Homo sapiens: one gene and its partner. The protein of the gene in region 1 purifies or fractionates together with the protein of each later gene. This does not show direct contact. Each region holds a gene or a part of one and is shown on either strand. Other genes may lie near its edges.

The links. The genes of interacting proteins can lie anywhere in the genome.
Region 2: the proteins of ABHD17A (region 1) and P2RY8 purify together in Homo sapiens (co-immunoprecipitation; one large-scale study listed by IntAct). This does not show direct contact.

The regions. Positions count from the first base shown.
Region 1 is NC_000019.10:1,879,404-1,882,496, forward strand, and holds part of ABHD17A (alpha/beta hydrolase domain-containing protein 17A), read right to left. Parts: exon of another isoform or gene 2,402-3,093; 5' UTR 2,164-2,401; coding exon 1,832-2,163; intron 1,646-1,831; coding exon of another isoform or gene 1,493-1,645; intron 713-1,492; coding exon 518-712; intron 456-517; exon of another isoform or gene 1-455. UniProt on the Homo sapiens protein: Hydrolyzes fatty acids from S-acylated cysteine residues in proteins. Has depalmitoylating activity towards NRAS. Has depalmitoylating activity towards DLG4/PSD95. May have depalmitoylating activity towards MAP6.
Region 2 is NC_000023.11:1,527,186-1,530,685, reverse strand, and holds part of P2RY8 (S-geranylgeranyl-glutathione receptor P2RY8), read left to right. Parts: intron 1-3,500. UniProt on the Homo sapiens protein: G protein-coupled receptor for S-geranylgeranyl-glutathione (GGG), an endogenous metabolite present in lymphoid tissues.

The DNA.
Region 1 (3,093 bases):
GCTGGCCCAGACCTCGGATGTGTGCTGCGGGTCTGCACCTTACCCTGTAGGCCCTGCCCCAGGATGGCCAAGCTCCGCAGCCACAGGGCCTCATGGGCCAGTCCTCCGGACCTGGATGCAGCAGCCTCGCCTCACTTGGCCCCAAGTGCTGCCTCGGCCGATGGGCTCCCAGCCACACGTGCACAGACCCCCAGACCACCACCCACTCCCTCCCGCCGGGTGGCATCCACACCCCTGTGACAAGCTCAGCCCCTTCCCATCCTCAGGCCAGGGGTTCCCAGGGAACCTGGCTCCACAGGCCAGGGTGTGGGAGGACCGCCTGGCCACACCTCAGCCATGTGGAGGCGGCACCTGCACACCCAAGCTCGCCTGTCCGGCTCTCTGGCCCTGTGCATCCACTGTGGCTCCCCTCCTGCAGGGCCGCCCACCTTCCTCCCAGGGAAGCCCGCCCCCCGGCCCCCCGCCTGGTCCCCTCTTGGGTGTGCCCAGGCTGAGCTGCCCCCAGGGTCGCCCTCACCTGGTGCGCAGGGCCTGCCAGGCGGCGTCGATGTCGGCATAGAGGTTCCTCTCGGAAGGCCTGCCCGAGCTGGCACCGTAGCCGGAGTAGTCGTAGGAGAAGATGTTGCAGTGGAGGCGGGAGCCCAGGCCAATGTAGAAGCTGCTCATCTGGCCCAGGTCCACGGCATTGCCGTGCGAGAAGAGGACCGTGTACCTGGGACAGGCCGAGAAGGGCCGTTCACATCCTCGCTCCCAGCGCCCAGCTGCAGGGCAGGAGGATGCGTAGTGACAGCCCACCCCGGTGGCCAGCCATGCCCAGTGCCTCATTTACTCCCCTCCCAAGGGGGCCAGAAGCCAGTGAATGGAGAGGGGAGGCTACGACAGCACAGCTCCATCTCCGAGGGTTCCCCATGGGGAGAGGACAGGACAGCTGGCAGGGGGACAGGCAGCCTGGGCTGCAGAGGCCAGCCAGGGAGCCTCAGGATTCCCATCTGTGAAGCGGGACACTGGGACCATCGGTCGCATCCTCTCTCAGGGCAGACTCGCAGTGTGTGCTCAGATACTGCAGGCTTCACTGCCCTTCCTCCTGGAAGAACCTGGACCCCCGGGGATGGAGCGCACAGGCCCACCTTTCAGGACCTTCCCAGGGGAGCCCATGCTGCTGCTGGCAGGGCTATCTCCCCTCACCTCACAGAATGGTGCCCTCACTGTTGGGGCACAACTGGACCCCACCCCTGCCCCCAACAAGCAAATGCGGCCAATCTCTGCTCACACTCATGCAGCCCCTCCTGGCCCACCACCCTGCCCAAGCCCCAAGGCTGTGCTGCAAGGCCTGTCTGCTTCCCAGCACGGGAGCTGCCCCAGGTGGTGCCAGGAGCAGGTGGCCAGGCTGGCCCTGCCATGGACTGCTTCCTCCAGTTCCCCCAGGCCCCCACCTAGCCCAGCCAGAAGGTAAAGGCTCGCCCTCTGGACTCAGATCTGGTCAGAACCCCACCTGGCGAGAAGGTGGATGTACCCGCAGGCCAGGGCAGCCCCTGTGCCCCAGCTCTTGCCCAGCAGGCAACCACCAGGCGCTGGGTTGTTGGAGTCGCCCAGCCTGCCCACCCATGCCAGCTGGGGATGGCCTCCCTGAGCCTGGTGTCCTTGTCTGCGAGAGAAAATTGCCAGAGGGACGAGGCCGGCCTGACGGGGGATACCACCCTTGCTGGCTGGATGGCCCTTCACGGCAGGCTCGGGCCCTCGGGGGCACCACCAACCACACCAAGCACCGCAGGCAGAAACGGGAGCCCCAAGAACAGGGTGACCCAGCCCAGGCGCGGCCACAGCTGCTCACCTGGCACCAGGCACGCAGCGAACATACATGCAGGAGACGCGGTTGCCGCGGGCGCTCTTGGTGGGGAAGACCTCGATGGTGTCCAGCTCGCGCTGGCTGTACTGGAAGTCGGCACGCTCCGTCAGGTGCAGCTTCCAGCGCCCGGGTGCGCCCGAGGAGGCTCTCAGGGTCCCCAAGGGGGCGGCCCCGGCCCCACCAGGCCCCGGCTCGGGCTCAGGCACCAGGGAGTAGGTGGCCTCCGGCGGCAGGAAGGCGAGCTTGGCAGCGATGCGGCCGGGGCAGGGCGGGCAGCAGAAGAGGCAGCAGAGCTCACTCAGCGACAGCCCATTCATGGCGGGCGCCGCCCAGGCCGGGCCTCCACCGGGGCCCCCGCCAACAACGCCGCCCGGCCTGGCCCGGCAGGGGAGGGGTGGGGGTGCTCCGAGTCGCGGGCAGGGGGGAGAGCGCCCCCCCAGCTACCGCCCCAGACAGCAGCCCCGTTAGGAGGCCAGGGCCCAGCCCCATCGCGGTCCAAGCCGAGCCCCAGGGAGCCTCGCAACCACAGGTCTCCATGTCGTGCCGTGGGAAGCCCTGCGGGGGAACAGTGACATGTGGGGTCCTTTGGGGGTGCCACAGTCCAGCTGGGCACCCCCGGGAGGCGGGGCATCCACCCGTGCCAGGGGGCGGCATGGGCCCGGGGCCTGTCAGTCCCCATCCCCTCGGCCCTCCCCACGGCCTGTCAGGCACTGCACCCTACAGCTCAGGGGACCCCAATTCAGCCCCCTCTCCACAGGATGAAGGAACCCCCACCTTCCCTGAGCTGGCGATCACCACCTCTTGCCATGTGAGTACAGCCATGGCATGCGGGGCATGCAGGGGATATGACCCCAGCCCCGCCCACACCCCCGAAACGCCCGGCTCCAGCACCAGGGAAACCCCATGCGCCAGGACTCGGTCCGCACTGCTGCCCACTCCCTCCCCCGGCCCATCTCTGCCACCCTATGGGTGACGGGCCGCTGAGGCAAGGACAGAGCTCGAACTGAAGGGACCCACGAGGGACCCGAACAGGCCCCGCTACGTGAGCGTGCACAGGCGCCGGGTCCCACCGGCCTGCGATGTCTGGAGACAGAGGAAATACAACAAACAAAGGCTCTAGAAACAAAGGCAGGATACATCCCAGGCTCCTAGGGCCCCCAGAGCAGCAACAATGGCTCTTCTCTGTGCTGGAGCCAGGCCTGCTGAGGGGCAGGGGAGGTGGGCTGGCGTCAGGGGGTCCTTCTCCA
Region 2 (3,500 bases), on another chromosome or scaffold:
TTAAATAGATGATAGATTAGAGAGATACATAGATAGATGAGAGATAGATAGATAGGATAGATAGATACACACATACATATAGATAGATAATGGTGATGATAGAGAGATAGATCAATCAGATAGATAGATACATAGATAGAATAGATACATACATATGTACGTACATAAATTAGATACATATATACATACATACATAGATTAGATAGGTAGATACATACATACATACATGGATAAATAGATTAGATAGATAGATACATAGATACATACATAGGTGCATTAATAGATTAGAGAGATAGATGATAGATTAGAGAGATACCTAGATAGATGAGCAATAGATAAGATAGATAGATATGTACATACATATAGATAGATGACAGATAGATAGATAGATAGATAGATAGATAGATAGATAGATAATGGTGATGATAGGTAATAGAGATAGATAGATACATACATAGATACATGGATACATAGATAGATAGATAGATAGATAGATAGATAGATAGATAGATAGATAGATAGATAGATCATACATACATACATACATACATACATACATAGATGCATAGATACATAGATACATGGATACATAGATGGATGACGGAGAGAGAGAGAGAGAGGAGAGATTCTCTATACTAAAAGCAGGATCTTTCCACGTCAACACTATAGACATTTGGGGCCGGGTGATTCTCTGTGGTGGGGCCATCCTGTGCAGTGTAAGGTATTGAGAAGCATCCCCGGGATCCACCCACCAGATGCCAGGAGCACCCCCACAGTTGCGACAACCAGAACTGTCCTCAGACATTACCCAGTGTGCCGTGATGAGAAAAATCACCCCTAGTTGAAACCACTGTCAAATGGTAGGCAGATAAATGATAGAGATGAGAGATAAATGCTAGAAAGGTATAGATAGATGACAGACAGAGAAGATTAATAAATAAATAGATATAGGTGCCAGAGAGCTAGATATGATATATAGATAAATTGATAAATGATAGATATGATAGATAGATATAGATGGATAGATAGTCACTAACAGAGACTCTCTCATGCTCAGGCAGGGTGTCAGCCTCAGCACTGCTGCCATGTAGGGCTGGAGGATTCTCTGTGTTGAGCCTATCCTGTGCACTGCAGGGCACTGAGCATCTTCCCAGGCTCCACCCACCACGCCCCAGGAGTACACCCTCCAGTTGTGACACCCCAAACTGCCCAAGATATAGACAAGCATCCCCACTGGAACAGAATCTCCCGCAATTCTGAACCACAGGGTGAGAGGCAGGCAAGATAAGACAAGATGATCCTTCCAGAGACCTGGAAGGAGAAGCAAGATCATGTCCCATCCCCCAGGTCTCAGGGAGAGAATGGGCTGGGTCAAGGGACTCTGGATCACTTCCTTCCATTTCTCCATCTCCCAATGTGCTGTATGCATGCTCTTGTTACTATAATAAAGTAAGTAGAATTGAAGAGACTCTGTCGTTACAAGCCACACATGTGTAGATTAAGCAGATATTCCCTGTGCAGGTCAGGTCTCAGGGGAAATGGAGGATTTATTCTCCACCTTTCCAAGACCAAGGGCCCCGCTGTGTGTACGTGTTATTCTCATCAAACATGCTTATCTGCCCGAGGACTAAATGCTGGCTTCCACATGTGACATTTTTACTTGCAAAACTGGATCAATGGGGAGCGTCATTTATACTGTCCCATGCAACAAAGGGAACTGAAAAAGTGCAGGAATGAGGAGACTCAAATCCACGCACATTCAGAGACTCCAATCCACACTCAAAGAGACTCAAATCCAACTCATTCAAAGAGACTCAAGTCCACACTCATTCAAAGAGACTCAAATCCACACTCATTCAAAGAGACTCAAACCCACACGCAATCAAAGAGACTCAAATCCATACTCATTCAAACAGACTCAAGTCCACTCATTCAGAGACTCAAACCTACACGAATTCAAAGAGACTCAAATCCACACTCATTCAAAGAGACTCAAGTCCACAATCATTCAAAGAGGCTCAAACCCACACGCATTCAAAGAGACTCAAATCCACACTCATTCAAAGAAACTCAAATCCACACTCATTCAAAGAGACTCAAATCCACACTCAATCCAAAGACCAGAGCCAGCCTCTTGGAAGCACTTGCTCCTCCGGGCTTCCCTGGGACGTTTAAAGTGGTTTTGAAGATGTCGTATGAGGATGAATGCAAGACTTTGAGTTCACACGGTGCTGACTGGCAGCGCCTGCTGCTCAGAGCTGTGATGGCCTCCTCAAGGGGCAGTTGTGCAGCAGTAGCTCTGATGGAATCTCCAGGAACCCACTCTCCAGCAAGGAGCCCTGTCACATGCATACCTGCATGAGCCTCTCAGCCAGTGGTTGAAATGGGCATGTTGCAGACAGCCTCTCTGTGAGATGCAATAGATGAAACCTGAGGCTCAGTGAAGCTGGAGGCCTCCCAGGCACTAGCTGCTCAGTGAAGGCGCTGTTGTCCATCTACAGTGTCCATATGTCCATCACAAGCTCTTGGCATGAACACAGGAAACTTCTAGGATACTCAGGCTATTACCCTGGGGTTGGAGGCATTCTGTCTCCAGGTATTTATTTATCACTCATCTGTTCTTGGGGTGGAGGAGAATGAGACTACTCCTGCACTCAGGACAGGGACAGACCAGCAGGTGGCCACACGTGGAATAGAAACAGGAGATACCCCTTCAGTCTCAGCCACAGGGAATGAATGAGCAGGGTCCCTGTAGGGGCTGTGACTTTGTAGATGAGAGACCAGAATAGATTAACATGGCCTCAGTACTGTTTGTTGGATGGTTGAATGGATGGCTGCATAAATAGATGGGTGAATGAATAAATGAATGAATGAGTGAATGAGTGGATTAGTACATTAGTGAGTGGATGGATGGATATGTAGACAGGTGAATGAAGAGTGGATGAATGGATGAATGGATGGATGGATGGATGGATGGATAGATGAGTAAATGGATAAGGAATGAATGAGTGGATGAATGAATGAATGAAGGGATGATTGGATGGATGAATGAATGAGTAGATGAATGAATAAATGGATGGATGGATGAACAGATGGATAGATAGGTGGATGAATAAGGAATAAATGATTGAATGAATAGATACATGAATGGGTGAATGATAGTGGGTGTATTGATAAATGGGTGGATGACTGAATGGATGGATTGAAGGATGAACGGATGGATGGATGAGTGGATGGATAAGGAATAAATGAATGAATGAATAGATAAATGAATGAGTGAATGAATGGATCATGAATAAATGAATGGGCAAATGAATAGTGGATGTATGGATAAGTGGATGGATAAACGGATGGATGGATGGATGGATAGATGAGTGGATGGATAAGGAATGAATAAGTGGATGAATGAATGAATGAGTAGATGAATGAATAAATAGATGGACGGATGAACAGATGGATAGGTAGGTGGATGGATAAGAAATGAATGAATAGGCTGGGCG